2 linked regions of the Homo sapiens genome follow. The protein of the gene in region 1 interacts with the protein of each later gene in a biochemical or structural test. Each region holds a gene or a part of one and is shown on either strand. Other genes may lie near its edges.

Region 1 (7,930 bases):
AGAGGGCTTTGCTCGGCTGACAGGTTTCCTCATTGAAAATGGCTTTAGATCGCCTTCTGGAGCCTGGATTTGGAGACTTCTAAGAGGAAAGGAAGGAGGTGGGGAGCCCTTCTGCTGTGTCCTTAGCTTACCTCTGTCCAGCCTGAATCCTGCAGATTGGAGGGCTGTTGGGGGAGAGGGGGATTGCAGTGGCCCCTCGGAAGGGGGAATCGTGGGAGAGGGAGGCAGGTGAATTGCGAGTGTTGCTTGCCACTTCATCTATTCTCTGGCCAGCTCGCCCGGGGCTTTCTTGCTCTTATGATGAGTTTGTGCATTATGCTCTCTGCAGACTGTTTTTGTTCTCTTTGACCCGAGGTAACAAACACATTATACAGCCCTACTCTGGAAGGGAAAACTCCCCACCTCACAATCTGTCATCGAGCTGGGTCATCCAGGACTGAGCTTTCTCTGTCCTGGATGGAGCGGAGGGCGGTGGCGGGGTGGGTGGGAGGGTTGGAGATGAGAGGGGATGGACAGAGACCTGGGGAGGGAGGTAGTGAATAAAAGAATTCAGGCCAGTGTAAAGAGAAAGACACGTGGAATGTCAGAGTCACGATACCAGGGCAGAACATTCTACTTTTTAATCTAAATATTTCTGCCATTAAAAAAAAATGTTTCAGCATATCCTGAGAGTGAAAAAAAAAGTGTGTAGGTACTTAAATAAAGTCTAATATATGTACAGGCAAGTACATATATTCAGATGCATAGATTTTTACAAAATGAACACACCCACGTATCCAGCACCCAGGTCCCGATCAGTGCCCTGGAAGTCCCCCTCCCCATACCGCCTCCTAGTTGCTCCCCCAACAAGGGTACCGCTCACCTGACTTCTAAGGTTCATTTTGCCTCTTTTAAACATGTAAATGGAGTCACACAGTACGTTCTTTTGCCACTGGCTTCTTTTGCTCACATCTGTGTATGTGACTCTACTACAATCTATCCATTCTACTGTTGATGGGCATTTGTGTCATTTCTGTTTGTGCCACTGGGAACATTCTTGTGTCTTCTATTATTTTTTTCCCACAGTTCTCTTAGATAGGAGTGGAATCGCCCCTGCTACTTTTTGATGCATGTGTTGTGGGATGTGTATTTGGAAATGGTGTTGACTAAGGGTTGCAGGTCGATATGGAAAGCAGGTTCCTCCCTGTCTTGTTTAAGAGAAGTGAGTGAATGATCCATGAACTTGTCGGTATGCTCACAGGGCCTAAGAGTGCTACTTCCAAATGTAAATTCTGGCATGGTACACTGGTGAAGGATGCAGTCTTGCTTTCTCCACACTCGGGGCAATTTGTCACTATGATTTCTTCCTCTTTCATCCCTCAGTGGGTCAAACTTGAAGCCATCAATGACAATTAAGAATCCTCATTTATTTCATTTTTTCCCCTCTTCCTAAGTGAGGAAACCCAAATGGAAGTCTTTGATGTTCAAATTTACATTGCCGTGTTTTTCTCATGCCAGGCAGCAAGCCGTCTTGACCACACACCTTGGTTTCATGTTTTCATTGACTGGAATTGTGATTCAAATAGGGCCATGAGGGTCTCTGATGATTGCCGAAGAGCTCAGATCTGTCAGCTCAAAAAGGAGCATCTGTCAGCCTTCCTAGAGTTCCCTCCCCACTTAATGCCACTCACTCCTTCTACCAAGTGCCAAGGTGAATGTCATCTTTCCAGCCCTCCCTGTGCCACCAGGTCTCCCACTGAACATGATGTAGAAACTCAGGCCATCGGAGGAACACTGGAAGCAGGTCAGTGTATTATCACGCACAGTTGCCTGAATTACACGTAGAATTCCAGCTTTTCATCCGGTTTGCAGAAATCTTAACAAGACACCTAAAGTCACATTGACATCAGGTGACATCACTTTGACATCTGTGGACATTGGCTGATTGGCACTCCTCTCATTTTTTTTTTTTTTTTTTTTTTTAAGAAAAGCTCTCTAAAGAGAAACTTTCTGCATGAGAAGCGCTGGGAGACATGGGAGCAGGTTATCAGACTCTTGGCCTGTCCTGAGAGATAGAATGTTCTAGAAGGTACTGCCGTAGAGGGCAGGATGGTGTCACTTACGTGATCCTTGTACTAGACCGGCTTGGCTGGTATTTCCAGAGGAGCAAAATTCTGCGAAGTAAAATTTAGCACGGCTTTTCCAATGGGAGTATTTTCAAAAAGGGTGCAATTTCTTATCCACAATTCCCCAATCCAAAAAGCTCCAAAAACCAAAAGACGAGCTCATATAGAGGTAAAACCTAACCTGAACTGACTTCAGTTTGAAGTCTTAATTTACAGTTTTCATTCATTCTACTTGGTGTGCATTTGAGTATGTTTTGCAGCAGAAATGTTAGATGTGCTTGATGATGAGGTGCTGCTTCAGCTCCTGACTGTTAGGTCTGCATTGTAGTCCTGTCAAACTTTCAGGTGTATGGAAGTTGTCTTGTTAACAGGATGGTTCTGGTCCAGCAGGATTTGGGTGGGGTCTGGGATTCTGCTTTTCTAGCTAGCTTCTAGGGATTCCCCATGTGGTAAGTTCATGGGCTAGGGTTGGAGTATCCAGGTTAGATCATAGAGACATCTTGTTATCATTTTTCTTTTCCTTAAAAATCAGGTTTATAGGGGCCGGGTCTGGTGGTTCACGCCTATAATCCCAGCACTTTGGGAGGCTGAGGCCGGTGGATCATGAGGTCAGGAGTTCGAGACCAGCCTGGCCAACATGGTGAAACCCCGTCTCTACTAAAAATACAAAAATTAGCCAGGCGTGGTATTGTGCGTCTATAATCCCAGCTACTCGGGAGGCTGGCAGGAGAATCATTTGAACCTGGGAGGCAGAGGTTGCAGTGAGCCGAGATTGCACCACTGTACTTTTTTTTGAGACTCTGTCTCAAAAAAAAAATAGATTTATTGATGTATAATTTATTTGTAGCAAAATTCACCCTTTTGACATACTGGTCTGCAAGCTTTGACAAATGGATGTAGTTGTGGCCACCACCCAAATCAAGATATGGGACAGTTTCATCAACCCTAAAATACCCCCACAGTGCCCCTCTTGAGTCAGCACCCCACTTCTCCAGCCCCTTCAACCACTGATCTGTTCTCCATCCCTACAGCTTTGCCTTTTGCCGAAGGTCATATAAATGTAATTTCACAGTATATAGCCTTTTGAATGTGGATTCTTTTACTCAGACTTTGAGATTCATTCATGCTGTTGCCTGTGACAGTAGCGCCTTCCTTTTTGGTGTTGAGCAGGATTCCATGATATGGATGGACCAGAGTTTGCTTCCCAGCCGAAGGACATTGGGATGCTTCCAGTTTCAATGATTATGAATAGAGCTGCTATAAACATTGGCTTATGGGTTTTAGTGGGAACATTTCATTTCATACATTTCATTTCTCTTGGGTAAATTAACCCAGGAGTGAGATTGCTGAGTTGTGTGGTAGGTGTATGTTTAATTTTATAAGAGGCTCTCAAACTGTTTTCCTAAGTGGTTGTACCATTTTACATTCCCATCTTTGCAATGCGTCTAAAAGCCCTGAGTTCTGAATTCCAAAGCACGTCTGGCCTCGATGGCTTAGGATTAAGGATGTGGATCTATGGAAAGGAGTGGAAGTAATAGTGTTAAATCCCGGTCAGAGAAATAAGAAAGATTAAGGATGTCATTCAAAGCTATGTGCCTGCACTAGAGAGAGAGAAAGAAGGGGTTCTCTTGGGTGGGGTTCCACCCCTCCCTGGTAGTTCTACCATTCCCCAGGAAAAAGTCAAGCTCTGAGGCTGTGAGACCCATGATCTTTACCCTGTTCTTCACCACTGCAACCCCAGTGTGTGGGACAAAGCAGGCGTCCTATAAACGTTTGCTGAGCAAATGAGAAAAGGTACCTGTCTTCACCCATTAACTAAATTGTATAACATCTATCTGATCTACCCTTGTGCCAACGTTTTAGGATTTTGATGGGTTTTAGTTGCAGGGGGTTGAGAGACTGTCCATGAGATTATCAGACCAATGAAAGTTTCTGAAATGTTAGTGCTTGAGTAGATTGGATGCAGCGGCCCCTTGAGAATGAAGTCTTTCTTCAGGGACTTGGAGTGGGAGGCATCTGTTGGGTGCGTAGGGCTTATGCTTCCCCCTCCCTGTTTCCCCCCCAGTAGCAAGCACACATATACACTTTCTCAGCAATAAAAAGCACCGCCGGGAAGGTGGACTCCATCCAGAAATGATCAGAGCCTAAGAGCCGTGCAGTAACGCATTTCCGAGAATGCCAGCTCAGCTCCTGAGAAAAGGGCCGGATGGGATGGTGCCTGCTCTGAAAGAGGGCAGAGAGGAGAGGGAAAACACTCCGGACTCTGGGTCAGACTGGCCCAGGTTCACATTATTCACCAGCCATGTTATCTTGGGCACCAGAGCCTATTTCTTGACATGCATGATGAGGATATTCCTTCTAGTAGCATCTCCCTTGGAGGGCTCTCAGGAGATTAAATGGGGTCGTGCGTGAAAAATGGCCAGCACAGTCTCCAGCACAGAGAAAAACCCCAAAACGCCAGAGCCGTAATACTATGGAGTCATTTAGGTTCCAGTGTTCTTTTTTTGGAAACCGGCCAGAAAAGAGGCTTTCTGGGTGGGAATGGGAGCGAAGTGCCCCCCCCCACCACCCCCTGCGACTGGTCAGTGTGGATTGATTAACCTGATCGTGGCGCTCTTTAAAGCCACCTTTGGACATTTTGCATTCTCCGTTCTCTCTGGAAGCTTTCAGGGGAAAAAAAATTCGTGGCCACTTGACCCATTTTTCTATTCCCTTGAGTCTAAGGTAAAAATTAATTCTCTTTCCTCCTTTGGTCCCTCCCTCTCTCTGTGGGTGACAAGGTGAGGGAGTTTTAAAGTATATAATTAGCTTCCCTCTTCCCCTTTTGCACTCCCTGTCTCTTCCTTTGGGGCCGGTCGAGAGTGCAGCCCAGGATGGCCACCCCAGGTGTCCACTGCAAACTCCACAGAAAAACTTTGCTCAACTTTTGGTTTAGAATTTAGGTACCCCCCTCCCCTTCCAAACTTTGGTCTTCTTTCTCCTCACTCCCTAAAAAAATAGGAAAAACAAGGAACATTCCTGGCGAGGGAACCATGAGTGGGCACAGCAACTTAGGTTTCAAAAACCACTGGGCCTCAGTTCTTATCTGAGTAGGGTGACCCTTCAGCCAGGGTTGCCTGGGACTATCCTGGGTTTAGCATCTCTGGAAACTCACAGTCCTGGGCAAACTGGGACGCTGGTCACCCTAATGGTGAGTTCTTAACACCTGAGAGAGAAGAATGGTGCAAGAGATGGTGCCGTTGACCAAGAAAGGGGGAGAGTCAGTTACTTATTCCCTCTGAAAAGCCAAGACTTTTTATTGGAATGAATGCAGCTTTTAGAAGCCGTCTTTAAGGCAGCTAATACAAGAGAGATTCCAGCTATGAAGGGAAATGCCTGAGTTAAGTCCGGATCAAGTTTTGACATCTCGCTTCGGTCAGACACGGCTTTATCTGCCGTTCAGACTGGGAGCAGCCGTGAGTCTTCCTTAAAGGTGCCTGTTGCTCAGGCGGCACCTGCAGTTAGAAATTAGCAGCCTCCCACCCCCAGCCCCCAAATAACAGGATTCAAGAGTCCCCTCTCTGAAGCCATGAGGGAAACCCAACTTAGTCACCCACTTGCCAGTAAATAATATTCATGCTGTTAAGTTCTGTTCTCATTTTAGGCCTATGTGTAAAAAATATATGTAATTTTAAACTGATTTTTAAAGTATTTTCATACGAACAGCATTTGCAGGAGGGCGAAGTCTGGATGTTACCTTTTTGTAAAAGTGGATGGATTTGTCTTCAATGAGACTCTGGGGCAGACTTAAAACTTGGCCCGCAGTGGTGTTACATGGATTCTGATCTTCCAGAGTCTGTCACGTTCTTTTATCTCCATGATCTTTATTATCTTCTTTATTGAGAATGATGGGCATGGTGTGTGTGGGTGGGAGGGCTATGCTGACCATCACTGCAGTGAAATGTGTTCGTGGCATGTTGTGGCGTCTGCATAGGAATGTGTCTGTTTGATTAACAGCACAAGCAGTGGAGGCTGTAAGGAGGAAAAGAGGAGGGAAGGTGATATTGGATGGAGGGGAGACATATAGAGCTTGGGAACAGTCCACCCTGGCTGCAAATCTCAGCTCCAGCTCACAGTTGTGGAGCCTCAGTCTTCTCCTCTGTAAAACGGGGACAGTAGTCCTATGTCCGAGGAATTGTAAGAAGGTTAAAAGATACTGTACCCAGAAAGCACATGGCATATATAATCATCCTGTGAAGTAGCCAACTCAATGAATTTTATTTTATTTATTTTGAGTCAGAGTCTCACTCTGTCACCCAGGCTGGAGTGCAGTGGCATGATCATGGCTCACTATAGCCTCGACCTCCTAGGCTCAAGCGATCCTCCTGCCTTAGCCTCCCGAGAAGCTGGGACTATAGGCATGCACCACCGTACCCAGCTTTAACAACATAAATTTATATATATATATATATATATATATATATATATATATATATATATATATATATATATATTTTTTTTTTTTTTTTTTTTTTTTTTTTTTTTTTGAGATGGAGTTTCATTCTTGTTGCCCAGGCTGGAGTGCAATGGCGCGATCTCGGCTCACTGCAACCTCCGCCTCCCGGGTTCAAGCAGGACGATGGGCATTTGGGATGTTTCTAGTTTGGGGTGGGGGATTGTTTGTTTGTTTGCTGTTATGAACAATGCTGCTGTAAGGAATCAATAATTTTGAATGAATGAATTCGAGGTGTTAATTTTAGTCTGTGTACTTGGAAATCTAGCTTCACCTAGAATCAGCTGAGATTCATCAGCATTTATGGCAGGAGCTAAGACATTTCACAGCTTACTCATCATTTTCTCTAAGAGGCTGGGTCAACCGGTTAGCTCTTGGTCCTGCTTGTATTCTGAGAGTCAGAACCTGTGGTTTAGACACTGGCAATTGATATGGTTGTAGAGAAGCAGCATGGTTGAGTTGAGAGCATGGATTCTGGAGCTAGGTGGCTGGGGTTCAAATCCCAGCTCTACTAGTCACTGGCTGCGTGATCTTGGGCAAGTCACTTAAGTGTTCTGTGCTTCAGTTTCCCAGTCTGTCCCAGTGGTGATTCTAATAGCTCCATGGGGATCCTAATAGCTCCTATCTGGGAGGATTAAATGAGTTAATACATCTGATGTTTAGAGTGGTGCCTGACACTTAGGAAGCACTATATGTGTTTATACATGGAAGAGTGGATAGATGGATGGACTTATGTGGGTGGCCATATTTGGGCTTCTCTGATCCACTGCTGAGAATAGTGTGTGGCACACAGTAGGTGCTGCATAAGTGTTAATATTCTGCTCTTTCTTGCCAAGTCTCTCAACTCCCTTGATCTCTGTTATTTTTGGCGTCTGTGTTGTTAACCCATTCTTCTGAATGATCAGCTGAATCACTGTTGCTCCAATATATAAGCCAAGGAGAACACAATCACAAGGTCTCATTGATTGTCCATACTAGAATTCCATGATTCCTAGGCCCAAGTAGGATTTTCCCCACGTCTCAGCAATCCTTCTTCCATGTTTCTAATCTTTTTCTCTCATTTGTTATGCCCCATTGCCAGACTCTCCAATCTCCCCACAGCTTCCCCTTCCTCTAACTATACTGTCTCTAGTCTTACCTTCTCCCTAAGGGCACCGTCTTTGAAGACATCAAATACTTCAGAGCACCAAATATAGGTTAGCTTCTCTGAGGGCCTTACAAGGACATGGAGTGTTTGGGTCTTACACAAATTGGAATGGTCAGAAATGTTTAGAGACTTGAGTTGTCTTTGAAAGAGTTGTCAGAATGCAAATTTTTGACTTGTGGCCTGTTT
Region 2 (7,930 bases), on another chromosome or scaffold:
GCAGGAAACCTGTCTACTATTTTTATTTCTGTATCCCCAGCATCCAAATGGTGCCTGGCATATAATAGGAACATCATCATACTTACCGAAGAAATATATTATTCCCAAATATTTCCTCTTCAATTCAGAGTACAACAAAGATAAAAATGTATAATATATTTGTACAAATTGATAACGTTTAATCTGTAGCATATGTAGGTTAAAACTTTATAAACTCCTTGAAATAACCCCTCCTTCCTTACAAAACTAATAAAAGTTTGAAATTCTCATTTACACGCAAGTGGCTCTGCAATTTGCTGTTCTTGGTTCTACTAAGCTTAATTTCTTCAAGTCTTGTAAAGGACTTTCTTCTTATCTTTGCAATGAGATGAATAAAGACTATCTACCCTTCTGCATTAAAAAGTGAGGAAGCCAAACAGAGTAAGGCAAGGACATAACTAGAATTAAATAACAATCAACTCAGCCAATATCCTCTTATAGGTAGACTTTTCACACTGGTATAATCATACCAGTCGTTAAATTATTGAGTACTAGTGGTACAGTGGTAGGAAGGAGAATAGGCTTGGTTCTGACCACATGGTGTGAGCTCCCATTTCCACCTATGACTGAAGCCAGAATATTCATGAACTTTATGGTCACATGAGCACCAAAATCCCTTTTCTTGCTTAAGCATTTTGAGTCAGGTGGCATTTTTACAAGTGAAAGAATTTCTGAAAATAAAAAAAGAGAAAGAGGAGCAAAGGTGGTCAAATCTACCATATAGTAACAGGGCACCAGACAATTTGCAAACATTATTGCATTTTCATTCCTGGGGAACTATCTTATTGAAGTTCACCATTCCAGAGTTGGCTATCTGAATCCAGCTCTCTAAGTTTCATACTTTTATCCTATTGCCATCATGCTCATATTGACCTAACCTATAAAGTGGATCAATTTGCCTATCACTATTTAATCTCTTTTGGGTACCTCTACCTCTTTGCCACCATCTATTCTCTTCTTCTGACATTTATGAGTTTATTGATTGTGTGACTACCTATGATTGAGTATTGGCTCTGTAAATAGGTAGCTTGGGTTTAATTCTACATCTTACTACATAATGTGACCCTGGGAAGTTGCTCAGTTATTCTTTTTCCACTACTTTCTCACTTAAAAATTATAAACAAATTAGCACAAATCCCAAGGAGTTATTGAGAATATTAAATGGGATGAAGCATGGAAAGTACATAGAAAAGTGCCTGACATATTGTAAGAAACAATATGAATACCTGTATTCATTCAAATATCTCCCTTAATACCTATCCTATGTTTCATATAATTTTGTATTCTTTCTATAGGCCCTTCCCAACTAAAATTCCTGTTTTCTTAAATCAGATTAGCTACAAACACACTTATATTATTCCACATTGCAATGGTATGGCTATTAGCTATTGCTCGCAAATGTGTTTCTTAACACAAAGAATTGCCAACTGATAGACTTCATATTTGAATTGAATAATAATTGTGGTTTGGATATGTTCACTTAGAGCAGAATGTTTAACCATTCTACCTTGGAATAGAAGATAAAAAGTATCAATAGATTCAACAACTTCCACTAATGTTATGTGAAGGAACAGCAAGAAGGTGTGTATGAATATCAATGAGGAGAATAATAAGAGATAAGTTTGGAGAGTTAGTGATAAAGCTACAACACTTATGATTACAATCACTTCTCATTGCACCCTACTTGGTGGCTTGGAACTATGGAGTTTACAAATAAGAAAACAAATAAGGTGACTTATCTAACATCACAGTGATATAGCAATGACTAAAGGCCAACTTAGCCTAGTGACTCAAGCTTAGTGACTTTTCTTGTAGATTACAAAAATGTCCCTTGAATAATTTTAAAACACAAACTCAATTTATTTTGCAATTAGAGTCACAGAAGAAATAATGGTATATCAAATCTTTCTTATTTTTTCAGTGGGATAAATAAAGACTATGTATCTTATACTCAATAATGATGTTAGATAAGCAAAAGCAAACTAGTTCTTACATAGTAAGAGAATTACAAAACATGCTTTTTCCTGCTTTATTAAGTGCTGAGGCAGTAAGTTCCAACAGACAAAAAATATAAGAGGCTTTCTAAATGTGTAATTGCAGGCAAGTAACAACACTTGAGTCTCCTTCATTGCATCTTTAAGAGAGAGAACCTCTTCATTATCAACATCAAACAAGGCAATAAAATAAATAAACAAATAAAAATACAGTGCTGCACGCCTGTCATGAACACAGTAACTTGTTACCATTGCAATGGCAAAATAGAAAATAAAGAAAAACATGCCAAATAGTACATGCCAGTTTTTTGGACTCTAAAACATTATTCTGTCTCTCTGCAAAAAGTTACGGTTTAAAAATTATCCGCAAGCCCTTTACATGCAAAATTTTAAAAACATTCATATGATGACACATTCCATTTAAGTGTGCCAATTACATAAACAAATTAAAAGGCTGCTCCTTTATTTATCTATACATATATTTTGTGAAGCTAACCTAAAATGTATACAAACTAAGAATTACATTTCTTAGTTGTTGACACAAATTAATTCAGCTGGTGAAGATTACTATGGGTCAAAAGTACTAAACCTTCATTTAGTGATTCTATAGGAAAATATTTAATTAAGATACAAAAAAAGAAAGGAAAGACAAAAGAATGAAGAAAAGAAGGAAGAAGGGCAGAGTAGGAAGAGAAGACATGAGAAAGGAATAAAATGTACAGAAAGGAAGAGAACACAAAGGAATTCCTATATCATTCTTATAACCAGAGAACTGAACAAATCTTTCCTATTCAGGCTGTGAGGTGTAATATGCTTCGATGCATACAGGTCTAAAAGTCCAGAAATCAAGAGAAATAAAACTGTTGCTATGTGTTCAATATATAAATGATGAAACAGATTCTCAAAGGCATAAAAGAACTTGTCTCATCCACTTTTGCCTGAAGGAGTCAGCTCTCTCCTGTCATTAATATTCATTCTGTGTTGTCTAAGAGTGGTTCAGAAAGTATCTAAGATTCTCCAGAAAAAAAACAAGTCGTTGGAAACTTGCATATCAAGTACTTTTTTACAAAACAATTTAAAAGCAGGGCAGTTTTGTCAATTTAAGGGTATGTTGGCTTTGTACTGAAATGTCACTTTTTGAATTATCAGGCTCAGATGTAGCTCAAGGTGAATGCTTGGCTTTTTAAATTTAACATTATAATTTAATAAAACCACTAAAAATAGGTACATTATTTGTAATGTCATATTGTTAACTAAGCTTTTAACAGAAGAATTTCCTGTACACAGACAGATAAAACCCTAGTACTTTCAGGCATAGAATGATCTGGTTTATACATATTTAAATATAAAAACTTGTGGCCTCGGATTCTGAACATTGGTTAAAATAGAAGAGTGATGTTATGCTATTTATAGAAGAGGTCTCGGTGCTCTAGAAATATGCTCTAATGCCCAATAGTTCACTTTATTCAGTCTTCAAATCTGATGAAAATGCTAGGGATTAGGCAGAAAGCCAGCCTTGTAAACTAGGATCTGGCAGACACTCCAAGTCAGAAACAGATTTCAATGCTTTGCTTCCTTGTCTTTTTCCTGAGAAACTGTGTCAACTTTTCTTCCTAATAATCTTGATAACTCAAAACCTGATTGCTAGAGCTCAACTGTCCCTTAATGAGTTGTTATAGCACTTGTCCTTGCTTCAAAGGCCAATAAATCATTTGTCTAAAAATCTTTCTAGAAAAGTTTTTTTTCCCTCAAAAATAAGCAGGTAGGCAGTTTCCGTATTTCATAGGAGCTAAGCAAGGACCATGTCCACTGTTTGTATGGCATAGGATATTGGAGACCAGTAAGTACATCATGAGGGAAAAAGATACTCAGTTAGCTCTTTCTCCTTCTCAAAGAGAGAGCAGACAATTCAAAATTGATATTTTAGTGAGTGTTGCCTGCTGCTGTAATGTTATCTTATTGTTTATACTTGCAGAAACTCTCACATACAATTGTGTCTGAAAAATACATTATTAATAATCTATCCTAAAAGCAAGCTCGTGTGTGATGTTTCATAATATCCAGAGATTTTGTAGAAAAACAAATTGTCAGTTATCTGGGATAATGACCATGAAGCATGTGCTTATTTAAGGGTCTCCAGACACAGATGGATTTTGAAAGTATGATTTGAAACACTTTTTAAACAATCCTTTCAGCTTTATTCTCAGGTGTTAAGTTAAAAAAATACTATACTGACTCATGGTTTAACAGCTTCATCTTTTGCTTGGATCACTTGTGAGTAAACAAAAGAAATTCCAAGAAAGAAAAGCTTTTTCATAAATTATCCTAAAATTATATAAGATTCAGTATCGCATTTTAAAAGTGTTCACGTAAGTACAGCTCTGCATGTTTTGACTGAGTATTCATGTCCTTTTGCCTTCATGTTGATGAAAAAATATGTCAAGGAATCTCAAAGCAGCAATCAGTCAATCCAAGTACCTGTTTCCTACCCACAGTAGGCATGGAGTGACATGCAAGGAGGATGGCCCAGCGGAAATGAGCCTCAAGTAAAACAAGAGGCTGTTCCCTGGAGGCCACATCATGAGAACTTTCACCAGAGTTTTCAGGTGGTTTGTCTGCTTTCCTTTCTATTCTCAAGGGACTGAAATGATGGCTGCTGTCAGGGAGCATGATGGAAGAGGACAGGAGACTATATACTTCTCATGTAAGCAATTGCAAAATAAGAATGTTTACATTTCAAACTCTTCAAATATGTTTGCATTTGAGTGCATATGTGCATTTTATCTTTGATTTCAAAAGAGAAAGAAAACATTTATCTATCACAGGAAATAAGACACAATTACTTTTACTTATATAATACCCTTTGATAAAAAAATATCGGAACTCTAAGCACTTTAAAATTATTAATAAAGCTATATTTCACAAGTACAGAAATAGGTTCTTTGAGGTAAGATATGACCAAGTTTCAGTACCATACCTGAATTTAATTAAGTGGATATTTCAATCAGAAATTAATTTCTAACTGAGGCACTTAGCTAAATGTCTTTTTAACAGTATTTATGATTGCCGTAGCATGGTTGCAAGCTAGTATCTGTGATGAAATGTTGTCCAACAGGGCTGTATGAACTCTTGGAAATAATATCTTAAATTATATCTTAACCAAGTAGTTTCACCGAATTCTTACACTAGTTTATAGGCCATTCCCGTTCTACATGGAAATTCCCCAGCTCTCATTTTGTACAAACAGCTAGAAATAGAAGGCGTGTTTTATATCTTCATCTGCTTTATGATTTTCTAGAGCTCCTCTTTAACAAAATGCCTTTTTATGTGCATAAGTAATAATGTTAAACATAAAACATACTATGTGTGAGACATTTATAGGAGTGACCAGTATGCTTTCTTTGTATTTCCGCAATAGCAGTAACCAAAAAAGATAAACTTTGACCTCTCATTTGCATTATTAGTAAAGTATGGAAATCAGCAATCAGAACTTAAGGCTTAAATAAATATAAAAATTAGAGCAATTACAGAAATAATTCTTTAAAATATTTGTTTTGCATGTGTCAAAGACATGCTAGAAAATTCATTTCTAACACTACCATAAAGGTGTTATTTTACTTTAATGTAGGTTTTAATTTCTTTTGAAACTCTCTTAAATATTGCTTTTTTAAAATAATGTAATGTAGATGCCATTTTAAAACTAGGATTCTTTGCAATAGAATCTCTAATATTATATTTTAAATTGCAGAAATAGCATCTCTAGTGTTTACCATTTCTACAACATAGCAATATATTTATTGTCCACTTTAAAGAAAAGTTTTCCTTTTTTAATAAAACAAAAGTTAATTTTATTGATGTAGACAGTAAATGATGGCATGCTCTCTTCTAATAGGTAGCATACATTTGCACTATAATTTTAAATAAGTTTATTTTGTATTGCTAGTACATATGAATGGAGTGATGTTCACATACCCGGCTACCACAGTTTATCTTACAGTCCATATAAAACTAGCTCCTCAAGAACACTCTTAAAATGACCAGCTGAAAGAAAAATGCTGGTTATCTTTTTTTTTGGAAATGTTAAATTTCTCCTTAAGGAAATGGAAACACTTAGTGGAGAAGTTTAAGTCAAGTTTGCAAAAAGACTGAAAAAATGTTGATCATTTCTTGAGGAATTTAATGAAAACATATCAACCCACATTCTCCCACCCAATGCAATGATAATCATGCCATTCAATTACATAAAAAATTAAGAATGTTTACCTTAATGCAAATATTGAAAGAAACATCTGCCAAAAGCCTTAGAAAGACAGAAGTTTTATCAGCCATCATATCTAAATCATGTAAAAATATGATTTCAACTTATTTGTTACCTGTATAAAGAAGTGCATCATCTTGTACTGAGAGTTTTTTCAATCATGATACATATAAAAATCATTTCTGCCCAAAGCCATGGAACCCCATTTTAAAAGAAAAAAACTCTAGGCTCTCATTAATATTATCTCTGAGTATTCCCAGACTTTCAACCAAAGAACCCTTAAAAGCATTCCTAAGACACCGTCATCTTTCTTTAAATGGTACTTTGTACATGAATAGCCCCTAGTTTCAGCAAATTATAGTCTACTGTCCATGAGTTTCTAAACCTTTTTGAAAAATTTAGATAATTTCGGAATATATATACACACAAATATATGCATATGTATATACACACACATATCCTTAAATTCTAGCTGAAATTATTATGTATATTGCCATATACTTTGTCTCTTTTTAAATGGCTTTGGTCAATTTCAGTGAAAAAATTTCAGCTAAAATCAGCCACGTCATGTATTGAACTTTTGGTACAGATATATTTATGATAAATAAATTATTTAAGAATTTTAAAATATCACAACTACATCAGATATTTACTTTTTAAAAATATTATATTTTCTGCAGAATGCATGCAAGACGCATACCTACATTACACAATGGCAGAAAGTCTAACTTTGGTATGGGTTTTTGGTAATATTAGACAAAGATTTGTTCCATTATATAATCAAACTGTTTTTATTTCTTGTTCCCCCCAAATTACTTAATTATTACCATTAGGAAAATAAATATTATGTTTCAATTTGGAATTAGTGATAGCTCTTCTTGGTTGTTGCACAAACTGGAAATCATAAGAACTATATTTCAGGCTCGTATAATTGTCTGCATTAAGTGTGTGTTCTTTAAGATTAGATGGCTCTAACTGTTTTGGGAATTTTCTCAAAATCAACTTAATATACTGACATCAAAAGTGATGAACTGATATTATGTTAATGGTGTTATTAGGCTAACAGGAAGTTCAAATTAACTTTCAGATTTCTAACATATTCTACATTTTATTTTATTAATCTTCCAGCTCATCTTGCATATAATTAATACAAGCATATAATTAATACTATTTTTTAGTTTCAATTTCAGTCTAATATGCAAATCGTATAAATACAATGTTATTCATTTTCATATTTGTTGATTAGAACTATCTGATAATTTGACCAGATGAAATAACTAATATTCTCCATTATGAAATGAAGTTCAAAACTACTCAGCAACAACTCTCAATCATGTGGTATTTTTGTGAAATTAGTATTTTAGGATTTTCCCTATATATTAGCAGTCTTCAATTCTGACAAAAATACCTCGAGGCATAATTATCATATTTACTCTGAAACATTAATGAGATTTACTAAAATATCCTGTCAAAGGGAGAAAAAACAAAGATTGTATGAAATTGTGACATTAGACTATTTTGTGGGATAACAAAGTAAGAATTTCCTATAATATATCATGTAAGGTCTCTCCCCAATCCACTCACTATATATTGGAATTAGTTCTGATTTCCAATACACAGATATTGAATTTTTTAGAAG

What was found. Proteins that work in one complex are often made in the same cells at the same time.
Region 2: the proteins of CACNA1A (region 1) and SYT1 form a complex in vitro, tested with the Homo sapiens proteins (one study listed by BioGRID).

The regions. Positions count from the first base shown.
Region 1 is NC_000019.10:13,496,190-13,504,119, reverse strand, and holds part of CACNA1A (voltage-dependent P/Q-type calcium channel subunit alpha-1A), read left to right. Parts: intron 1-7,930.
Region 2 is NC_000012.12:78,867,388-78,875,317, reverse strand, and holds part of SYT1 (synaptotagmin-1), read right to left. Parts: intron 1-7,930. UniProt on the Homo sapiens protein: Calcium sensor that participates in triggering neurotransmitter release at the synapse. May have a regulatory role in the membrane interactions during trafficking of synaptic vesicles at the active zone of the synapse.